Linked DNA regions of Homo sapiens. The protein of the gene in region 1 purifies or fractionates together with the protein of each later gene. This does not show direct contact. Each region holds a gene or a part of one and is shown in the gene's direction. Other genes may lie near its edges.

Region 1 (3,464 bases):
AACGGAAATGAGATAAGTGGTATAAACCACAGAAGATATAGGAGAAGAGAAAAAAAAAAGAGGAAATAAAGAAGACAACTCTTTTCCTAAGAGTCTGGGTAAAATTGAACATAGCCATATTCACTGAACAACATGAGTGAGCTTCATTAATTTAAGCACAGCAAAACTGCTTTAATTAACAAGACCAGAGAGAAGGGAGAGGAGACTACATTTGTGTGACCTAATGGTTGTGATTTCACTGTCCAAGAGGACAAAGACAAAGAAATTCTGGGAAGGAGAACAACAATTATATTCCCCCATTTCAAGAAGGGCAGAAGTGTCCCAACACTACCCAATATTTGCAAAATTCAAATGTCTCATAGGCTCTTCTTCCCTGGTTCCCTCAGGAGCTGGGTTTCTGGGTTGCAGAAGTGCTTTTCATATTCTGTATCTGGTTGTGGTGGCAATGTCACCACCCTACACTGCTGTGACACCGAAACAACCAAGCCTAGAATCAGCTGGTGCCTCTTTTCATCTGCAGGGTAGATTTGGCTTCCATGGTTGTTCACTGCTCTGTGTTAGGAAGGCTCAGTGACAGGTGTACAGCCTTCAGTAATGCCTCAAAGGTTCTCCAAGCAGAGGTAAACATGTGGGTCCTGCTGGTGACATATTAGACTTCTTACTTTCCCCAAATAAAAAAGTGCCTGCTGGGCGCGGTGGCTCACGCCTGTAATTCCAGCACTTTGGGAGGCCGAGGCGGGCGGAACACAAGGTCAGGAGATCAAGACCATCCTGGCCAATATGGTAAAACCCCATCTCTACTAAAAATACAAAATTAGGAAGGCGTGGTGGTGCACGCCTGTAATCCCAGCTAGTCGGGAGGCTGAGGCAGGAGAATTGCTTGAACTGGGGAGGCGGAAGTTGCAGTGAGCCAAGATCGCAGCATTGCACTCCAGCCTGGGCAACAGAATGAGATTGTCTCAAAAAAAAAAAAAAGTGCCACATGCCATGCTATGTGCCCAAAGTTTCCTTCACACAACACAGCCTTGAGATGCAGTATTAAATTCTACACTTTTCCTACCATAGTGATACATGTGGCTTTTCTTTGCTGTGTTCTGAGATGTCATGCTTTGAAATCAGTGGCCATTATCATCTAAGGATTCCGCCAGAGACTTCCAAAAGAAGAGGTCTCATTTATAAAGTGAATTTGAATAAAATGACCAGTTAGGTGTTTTCAGAAACACCTATGCCCTACTTGCCTACTCTTCAAGGGTTTAGGGGCTTAGGGGGAGGTTTTGTTTGGGTTTTTTGTTGCTGTTGCTTGTTTATTTGTTTGTTGTGTTTAAGACGTTTTACTTGTCCCTGAAATGTTTGTCATCACACAGATACACGCTCAGGATAAGAACTACCAGACTAGATTAGGAGGTCCACACCACCAATTGAGATGTACCTGTGCTCATGACTTGACATTGTGGTGGGCCGGCTACAACCCTCCCCACCCCTCGCTTTCACTAAATAACAACTCTCTTCTCTCCATCATTTTGACTTAGAGCCAGTCAGAATTCAATCTCCAATATCCTGACTAGCACAAGAAATCCATAGGTTGATTCTTGTTCTCCTGCATCTCTGCAGGTGGCAAACCTGATTCCTAATGCCTGTTCCTGCCTCTGCAGGGGTTCATTCAGAAAACAGGAAAATAACAAAGGCTTCCTGTAATTCTCTTTGGCTGTAATACAATTTGTTCCCGTCTGCCCCCAGGCTCACCCAGTGCTCTGTCTCAGTGGTAAGCTGTAACTGATCACTGCTGTATTAACTCAAAACTCATTTGCTTTATGGAAATTCATGGCCCTTATTTCTCAAGGGACCAGAGAAAACCAATAGGCCTACTCCCCAGCTGAGTACTTTCCATGCAAGCTACCGCATCTGTATAAATTAGGTTCAAATAACAGAGTATTTCCAGGATTTATAAATTCAGTATTACAAATAGTAATCTGGCAAGTGTTCTCAGGATCCCCTTGCTACCTGTAATTCAATCATATAACTTCTGAATGGGCTGGGGGAAAATAACAATAAGAAAAACTGGTGTTTACCTGAAGATCTGCCCAGTGATTTGTGTGTTTTCTTAATAAACTTTACCCACTTATTAAAAGAATAAAATGAAGGTGGAGTTAATTCTGACTACGGGATTCCTTTTTCACTTTTATAATGAACTCCTTCCTTCTAACTAAATCTTATCATAAGCAAATCTATGCACCAAATTATTTAGTACAATTCCTAATAACAGCTGAAGGACCATTTATTTGAAGCAATGTTCACCATAGCAAAATTCCAGTGAAGTCTAAGAACTGGGACAGTCCGTTGAGGATCCTTGTGCCAGGATGTATGTTGCCCCATGAATGTGCACATGCATATTAAAATATGGGCACCTCTTTTAATTCTTTTTTTTCTCATAATAAGTTTGAAACTCACAGTAGGAAATTGAGAGATCAATTTGGTTACTGTTTTATCATTGATCCTGAAGACAGTTGAAGCAATCATACTGGTTGTTCTCGAACTAGCTGGTTTCCCAGAGACAGCTGGAGACTGAGCACATAAAGACATCATTGAGGAAAAAGGCTACCTTGTACCTCATGGAGAGCTGAAGGTCTGATAAATGGGAACTGCCAGGTAATAGCTATGCTATTTCTGACATAAATTTAAAAACTAGTATTGTTTCTTCTAGCTCTGTTTTTGCATAGTGCACAGAGATCTTTGTAAAAAACAGGAAATTAATGTTAAATTGGATCTATAAACATAAGTCAATTTGGCTCTATTATGTCAAAAGAGAATAGGAGTTTTAACTTATATCTGTGTTTTATTAATATTTTGAAGTATAGGAACCTCATGGTGTAGCAGGATGAGCCACAGACAAAACCTCTCAGACACCGAGTTGTAGAAGGAAGGGCTTTATTCAGCTGGGAGCATCGACCAGCTACTGTCTCAAAATCCAAGCTCCCTGAGTACACAATTTCTGTCCCTTTTAAGGGCTCACAACACTAGATTTCACATGAAAGGGTCGTGATTGATTTGAGCAAGCAAGGGGTATGTGACAGGGGCTGCATGCACCGGTGGTCTGGGAGGAACAGAACAGGACAGGGAGTTCTTCTATACAATAGAGAACAGAACAATGTTCTTCTATACAATGTAAGGAATCTATGAATAACATCGGCTTCTAAATCATAAGTTGATTTTTAACTACTGGGTTTAGGCCAGGCGGGCCCAGGCCTGGTTTCGGGCCTGGCGCTGAGCTGCCTGTATTTGGTTTTACTTCCTTGTTGTTTTTACTGAATATGAAACAATATAAAACAATGTGAGAGGGTCTTTCTCTCCTCTCAATGTCAACATCATATATGATTGGAGACTTCCACATAATTGAGTTTTAGTGCCCACTGTTACAGAAAATCATAATGGAAAAACTAAAATGTCAATAATAATTTCAGATGTGT
Region 2 (3,656 bases), on another chromosome or scaffold:
CTGAAACACGTGTGTATGATTTCATGATGAGATCATTTCAGGCTTCCTGAGAGCACTAGTAAAGGAGCATAAGCCGAATTTGAGTGATTAGAATCCTTTTCTCAGCACTGATATTCATTAGTGTGTAATGGGGTCTTTCCATTACCTCCTTTGCTTCCTTGCCTTTTGGCTAAAGTCAGGTTAAATATATATCACTTCTGATTATGTGCCCTCCTCAACAAAGACATTTCTGTTTGTCTGCATGTCACGCTATGTGATTGACACCACACGACCATATGAATTATGTAGTGTAGGAAAGGACAATATGTGTACTTACACAGGTAATCTTTCTAGCAAGAGTTTTATTTAAAAATACCATGAAGAATCAAGTTTACTAGGAAATATTGGATTTAAACAAGGCTCAATATTCAAAACTTTCTAAATAATTCCCAGATCTTGTACTGTAACATGACCATGATATAAAAACACAAACTATACTAACCAGGGTAGTTTTAAGTAGTGATGCTAAGTAGTACATGCTAAAAGAGTTTGGCATGTACTCTGAAGATTTAATTTGATGTATTTCTCCTGAAAATCTGAAAATTTTGAATCTGAAAATTCTCTTTAGCTAGTAATGCTGATATTCACACATGTGGTTACAACTTCAGCAGAAGGACATCTCTAGTGTTGACTCTTCCTTTCCTTATCTTGTCTCCTGCTTCGTGAAAGATCAGAAATAATATGGGACAGTTGTCTAAAACTCTGTAGATGAAATGTTCAAGTATAGCCTGACCTAAATCCAGAGAACTGAAAGACAAAAAAGGACTTTTAAGGAAAAAAATATGATTAGACAGCAACTAAATAAATAAAAGAATAAATGACTTCTGTTTTATACCTACAGGCTGTTGTCTGCCATTCTCAGAGTTTCAGAAGTTGAATCTCGAGCAATAAGAGCAGATCTCACTCATCTACTAAGTCCCCAGATGGGCAAAGATATTGTTTGGTTTTTAAAACGCTGGGCAAAGACTTATCTCCTGGTGGATGAAAAACTGTATGATCAGGTCAGAATGTAAAACTTAAAACTTCATTTGGATTTATGATGATAGCAGTTATAGAAGCAGGAACATTTTTCTTGGTGGTTTTTCATCAAAATAGAACTGTTTAAGAGCAGTTTAACATTTTCTGTGTGGAAGAGAATTATGTGACTGGAATGCTGTTTTAATGTGTTTTTGAGCACATCCCTTGATATCGTTTATTTTAACTGCTGTTGAAGATACAGATTATTATTTGGGAATAGATTATGCTTTTTTGTATTTGGTTTAATACTATGTTAATTTTTTAATACTATGGGAATAATAGAAGTTGACGGGAAAATCACACTGGAAAATGTGAGTGGATTGAGGATGTCTTTTTTTTTGACCAGTGGAAATGAGTACATGTGTAAAGTTGATGTGAAGTAAGCACTACTTCAGATTAGATACTAATTTCAGTTCGATTTTTCTCTGTTTTTTTTTTCTTGAGTTGATCTTTCTTGCTTACCTTAAAAAATTTGTTTCCTCTCTTAAGATAAGTCTGCCATTCAGTACAGCGTTCGGAGCAGATACAGAGGGTTCTCAGTGGATAATTGGCTACCTCTTACAAAAAGTCATCAGTAACCTCTCAGTCTGGAGTAGTGAGCAGGACCTTGCAAATGACACTGTGCAGCTCCTTGTCACTTTGGTGGAAAGAAGAGAAAGGTTAGCCCATTGTTGGAGGCTGACTGTGTGTGTATGTGTGTGGGTGAGAAACTCTTTTTCACTTCTTAGTGTAGTCCTTTGAACTGGCAAATGGTTACACGGTCCTAATTCCAGATAGAGCCTACATTTTTGGAGTAATGGGTTTTAAAAACTATGTCACAGTACTATTACAAATGCAAATGGAGCTTTCCCATCTTATAATTGAGCATTACATTGACTCCTTCAGGATTTGGCATCAAAGCCCTATGAGTAACACATTAGTAATTTATCGTGTTGCAAACACTTTTATGTGGAATATGCTCATTTGAATTTTTAGACATCCCCATTTTAAAGATTAAATACTGATATTTAAAATTTAATGTTGGAAAGTAAAATTTTTAGTGCTTTCTACAACAATTCTAGAAATGTTTTCGTTGTTCTTACTGTATAGGAGTATCATTGTTATTATTACCATTGTCATTGTCTGGTTTATTGAATTCTTATAATTTACTATGTACTCTTCTAAGCATGTCATAGGTAGTATCTCATTTAATCATTATATCAGTCTCAGCCCCAGGAGACTGTTATTATTCCTATTTTGCAGATTATAGAGAAGTGATGATTGATAGAGGTTAAATAAATTTTACATCACCAGACAACTAGTGGGATTTGAATGTAAGCCTGTGACTTCAAAGTCTATACTAAGTTTACTGTACTTTGCTTTAACAGTAATTAAATCTAGTTATTTTTTATTTTTGTTTTCTTTGTGTGTATATGTGTATGTGTGTATGTATATACATAGTAATACATCTTATGTTTTGTTATTTCTACCTGTAGGGCAAACTTAGTAATTCAATGTGAGAACTGGTGGAATTTAGCTAAGCAGTTTGCAAGCCGAAGCCCACCTCTTAATTTCTTGTCAAGTCCTGTGCAGAGGACATTGATGAAGGCTCTAGTCTTAGGAGGTTTTGCACATATGGACACAGAAACCAAACAGCAGTATTGGACAGAGGTAACAGTGCTGTCTATTTTGATTGCACCCTTTTGTGTAACTCTGTAGTTCCTTTATCTATGCGTTGCCGTAAGAGTCTCTGGAGACATAAATGTATCAGTCATAGCTTTTCTTTCTTTCTTTCTTTCTTTTTTTTTTTTTTCTGAGATAGGGTCTTACTCTGTTGCCCAGGCTGGAGTACAGTGGTGCAGTCTCAGCTCATTGCAGCCTCTACCTCCCAGGTTCAAGCGATTCTCCTGCCTCAGCCTCCCAAGTGGCTGGGACTACAGACTCATGCCACCATACCCAGCTAATTTTTGTTTTTTTTAGTAGAGACGGGCTTTTGCCATGTTGGCCAGGCTGGTCTCGAACTCCTGGCCTCAAGCAATCTGCCCGCCTTGGCCTCCCAAAGTGCTGGGATTACAGATGTGACCAGCCACTGTGCCCGGCCCAGTCATAGCTTTTCTGATATTTTTTCTCCTAATGAATGGGTTGAAGCTTCTTATTTTACAAATGTTGTCTTATAATTTTTCTGTACCTGCCTGTGTGTGATGACATTGAATATTATCAAGTGTTCTGCATTTTAGGCACATTTTTCACAACTCAGTCGAGAGCATGGACTGGCTTATTAAATTTTCATTAGGGATCAGGGAAATATTCTCCTGTCTTGAATAAGATGCAGATTAACCATGATATTCATTTCCTAGGGCTGCTCTAACAAAATACCACAACAGAAATTTGTTTTCTCCTACTTCTGGAGGCTAGAAGTCCAAGCTATAAGGTGTCCATGGGATTTGTTCTTTCTGAAGGCTATGAGGGAAAATCTGTAGCCTCTGGTAGCTTGCTGGCAGTCTTTGGCATTCCTTGATTTGTAAACGCATCACCCTGATCCCTGCCTTCATCTTCACATGCTCCCCCTGTGTGTGTCTGCATCCACACTTCCCCTTTCTATATCAGTTATATTGAACTAG
Region 3 (3,656 bases), on another chromosome or scaffold:
AAGAAAAGGTAGCACAGTCAAGAGGGATGATTAAGAGAGTACTACTTGCAAAGGTATGGGTAAAATTAAGGGACACCAGCACGGGGTGGTGGTGCATGCCCCTGGGGCTGGCAGTAGTGGGGAGCCTCAAAGGGCAAGTGAAGGAAACCTGGAGAGAGTTGAAGCTGTGTCTTAGAGGAGGGCTGGACAACAAGAACTACAGCCATCACTAGAGAAACTCTGCCACTGCATAGCCAGCTGGATGGTCGGAAGAGGGGTACCCTGTTCCCTCTGCCCTCTAATCTCCTGCTGGTACTTTCCATTGGTTGAAGCCAACTAGAAGCCAGAGGGCAAGGGAGCTTGGCTGCTCTCCTCAACAGAGGTCAGCCTCCTAGGGAATAGGGCAGGGTGGAAAAGGGTCGAAAGCAGATCTAGAGGGGGCAAACAGAGAATGTAAATATCTAACACAGTGGGAACAGAGGGAAATGTCTTCAGGGATAAAGCTGGGTTGTGTTTTTTTGTTTGTTTGTTTGAGGCAGAGTTTTGATCTTGTTGCCCATGCTAGAGTGGAATGGCACTACCCATGGGTTCAAGCGATTCTCCTGCCTCAGCCTCCTGAGTAGCTGGAATTACAGGCATGAGCCACCACGCCCGGCTAATTTTATATTTTCAGTAGAGACAGGGTTTCTCCATGTTGGTCAGGCTGGTCTCAAACTCCCGACCTCAGGTGATCTGCCTGTTTCAGCCTCCCAAAGTGCTGGGATTACGGGCGTGAGCCACCACACCTGGCCAAAGCTGGCTTTTTTAGGGCCCAGATGTGATATGCTTATTTCTTTTTTTTTTCTTTTTTTTTTTCGTTTTTTTTTGTTTTTGAGACGGAGTCTCTCACTGTTGCCCGGGCTGGAGTGCAGTGGCGCGATCTCGGCTCACTGCAGCCTCCGCCTCCCAGCTTCAAGCGATTCTCCTCCCTCAGCCTCCCAAGTACCTGGGATTACACGTGCCTGCCACCACGCCCAGCTAATTTTTTGTATTTTTGGTAGAGATGAGGTTTCACTATGTTTGCCAGGCTGGTCTCAAATTCCTGACCTCGTGATCTGCCTGCCTCAGCCTCCCAGAGTGCTGGGATTACAGGCGTGAGCCACCACACCCGGCCGATACGCTTATTTCTTTATAGCATGTAATGACATAAGCACATAACATCTACATGTCAAACTCAGATTAGCCAAGAAAACTAAATCTAAAACTTTAAAGTATAAATTGCTCGATATTTTTAAGGGTGAAATAACGTATCTCAGCAAGAACAAAGATGCCATTGGAGTGGTCAAAGGAATTTGTACCTAAGGGAATTTCCAAACTGAATTTAATGGGCTGCCGTGGTCTGCTTGGATCTATGTTCTTTTCTTTTCTCTTTTTAAAATAATGTTGCTTCAGATATCCTAAAGAAGGATATTGTAGGAGGTGGAACGTTTCTGGTGAAAGTAACTGTACAGTCTTTTTAATCGTTGTGTTTGGGTTCTGCCCTGCATTTAGGTATTATCCTGCTTGGTACAGATCGCTTCAGTCAGAAGATCCCTGTTTAACAATGCAGAGAGGGCCAAGTTTCTCTCTCATCTTGTTGATGGTGTTAAACGAATACTGGAAAACCCACAGGTAAGTTTATCTGAGAATTTACATATGTATAGGATTAGTGTATGGCCAGCTGTTATGAGTCAGAAGGAAATCCATCCCAAGGCCCAGTAAACAATTCAGTCTGTTCTTCAGGGAAGACTGAAGTGAATCTCTATTTGTAGGCCAATTCTGAGATTATTTGCCCAAAAGAGGAGCTTATATCCTCCCGCTTCAGAAATGTAGGAGTTACAGGAAAGAATCACTTCGCTATAAGGAAATAAGGAAGAAGCTAGTCATTTTTCCCCCCAAGAAGTTAAGACTCTAACATCTCCGGGCACAGAGGCTCACGCCTGTAATCCCAACAGTTTGGGAGGCCAAGGTGGGCAGATCACTTGAGGTCAGGAGCTCAAGACCAGCCTGGCCAACATAGTGAAACCCTGTCTCTACTAAAACTACAAAAAAAATTAGCCGGCCATGGTGGCACGTGCCTGTAATCCCAGCTACTCGGGAGGCTGAGGCAGGAGAATCGCTTGAACCCGGGAGGCAGAAGTTGCAGTGAGCCGAGATCATGCCATTGCACTCCAGCTTGGGCGACAGAGTAAGACTCCGTCTCAAAAAAAAAAAAAAAACTAACATTTGGTTTTTGATTTTGTTTACCATTTTTAAAAAATGTTTATCGGTAACCTAAGTATATAGGGCTGCTTTTAGGTGGGAAGGAAGATACTTCTTTCAAACGTTAATTTCATAACTCGATTGCCCTTTTTGTCTTTTGAAGTCCCAGTGATTCAGTATTTTTTTGAAAGTATCACTTCTCTATACTAGAAGAAAATTAAAAAGCAGTTTATTTCAAAATATACTCAGTTTTGTCCCTCTTTTTAAAATTCATTTATTCATTCAACAAATTACATTGAATACCTACTCTGTGCCAGGGATACACGGGTGAACAAAACAAAGTCTTAGCCCACATATGCTAACAGAAGAAGACATATCAGGAAACTTACAATTAAATATACTGGTAGAATAGATTTTAAAATAGCTGTAATATTTGCTATATCATATAAATACTACTATATGAATAAATTACAGTAAGTGATATAAATATATGAAACATTTGTATAACTTTGCTAACTATCGGTTAGTTGTGCTGAATGATCAGTTTGACAGACGTGGAAATGAAAATTTCATTAGATTTCCTTTGATTGGTAACAATAAGAAAACAAGTCAGTCACGTCTTAGGTCGTGCCCACTTCTGCTATAATGAGCTTTACAGCCTCAGTGTGATCCTCCTGGGCTTCTGTTTCAAACTCTGTCCATTGAGGCTAATAATGTCATCTCATGTGATTATTATTGTGAACATATGAGATAATAAATGTGACTGTCCCTTTTCAAAGTGACTTTAAAAAATTGTTTCTGAACATTATGCAGACGTATCATTCTGAATCATGACCTGCAGCCCAGAAGTTAAAAAGTAGATTCTACCCCTTCCCCCATGCCATCTCAAGTATACATCATTCTTGAAGTATGTTAAGGCACATTTTACATTTTATTTTTCTCCTCTGCTACTGCCAGAGTTTATCAGACCCAAACAATTACCATGAGTTTTGCAGACTACTGGCCCGATTGAAGAGTAACTATCAACTGGGAGAATTGGTAAAGGTGGAAAACTACCCTGAGGTCATCCGATTGATAGCCAACTTCACAGTGACCAGCCTACAGGTTTGTCTTTGATTACTTGTGTCTTCCTTCCTAAATACTGGAATCTCTTGCTTGTTGGTTTTAACCATGTAAGAATATATTTTTTTTTCTTGGCAAAGGTAACCATAAGTCCAGTATAGCCCTACAGAGTAGTTACTATTGTGGCCTGTGATTTACATTTACACAAGTGCAAGTAGTGTGGGGAGAGGAACATGTGGGAATTACTAGGATAATATTTAGATTCATCCCAGAGAGAATTAGCTCATAGTCACCCCAAAAAAGCCAAGGTCGGAACAGGGAGCTAGACAGAAGAGTAAAAAGAGAGTTGATGCCCTCTCTTTCTTAGTCATGTAATATAGAACAATGGGTCTCAA

What was found.
Region 2: the proteins of OPRM1 (region 1) and XPO4 purify together in Homo sapiens (affinity purification with mass spectrometry; 2 studies listed by BioGRID and IntAct, with this or other methods). This does not show direct contact.
Region 3: the proteins of OPRM1 (region 1) and XPO7 purify together in Homo sapiens (affinity purification with mass spectrometry; 2 studies listed by BioGRID and IntAct, with this or other methods). This does not show direct contact.

Annotation. Positions count from the first base shown.
Region 1 is NC_000006.12:154,126,146-154,129,609, forward strand, and holds part of OPRM1 (mu-type opioid receptor), read left to right. Parts: 3' UTR 1-3,464. UniProt on the Homo sapiens protein: Receptor for endogenous opioids such as beta-endorphin and endomorphin. Receptor for natural and synthetic opioids including morphine, heroin, DAMGO, fentanyl, etorphine, buprenorphin and methadone.
Region 2 is NC_000013.11:20,798,215-20,801,870, reverse strand, and holds part of XPO4 (exportin-4), read left to right. Parts: intron 1-880; coding exon 881-1,040; intron 1,041-1,545; coding exon 1,546-1,715; intron 1,716-2,531; coding exon 2,532-2,706; intron 2,707-3,656. UniProt on the Homo sapiens protein: Mediates the nuclear export of proteins (cargos), such as EIF5A, SMAD3 and isoform M2 of PKM (PKM2). In the nucleus binds cooperatively to its cargo and to the GTPase Ran in its active GTP-bound form.
Region 3 is NC_000008.11:21,978,575-21,982,230, forward strand, and holds part of XPO7 (exportin-7), read left to right. Parts: intron 1-1,509; coding exon 1,510-1,629; intron 1,630-3,156; coding exon 3,157-3,303; intron 3,304-3,656.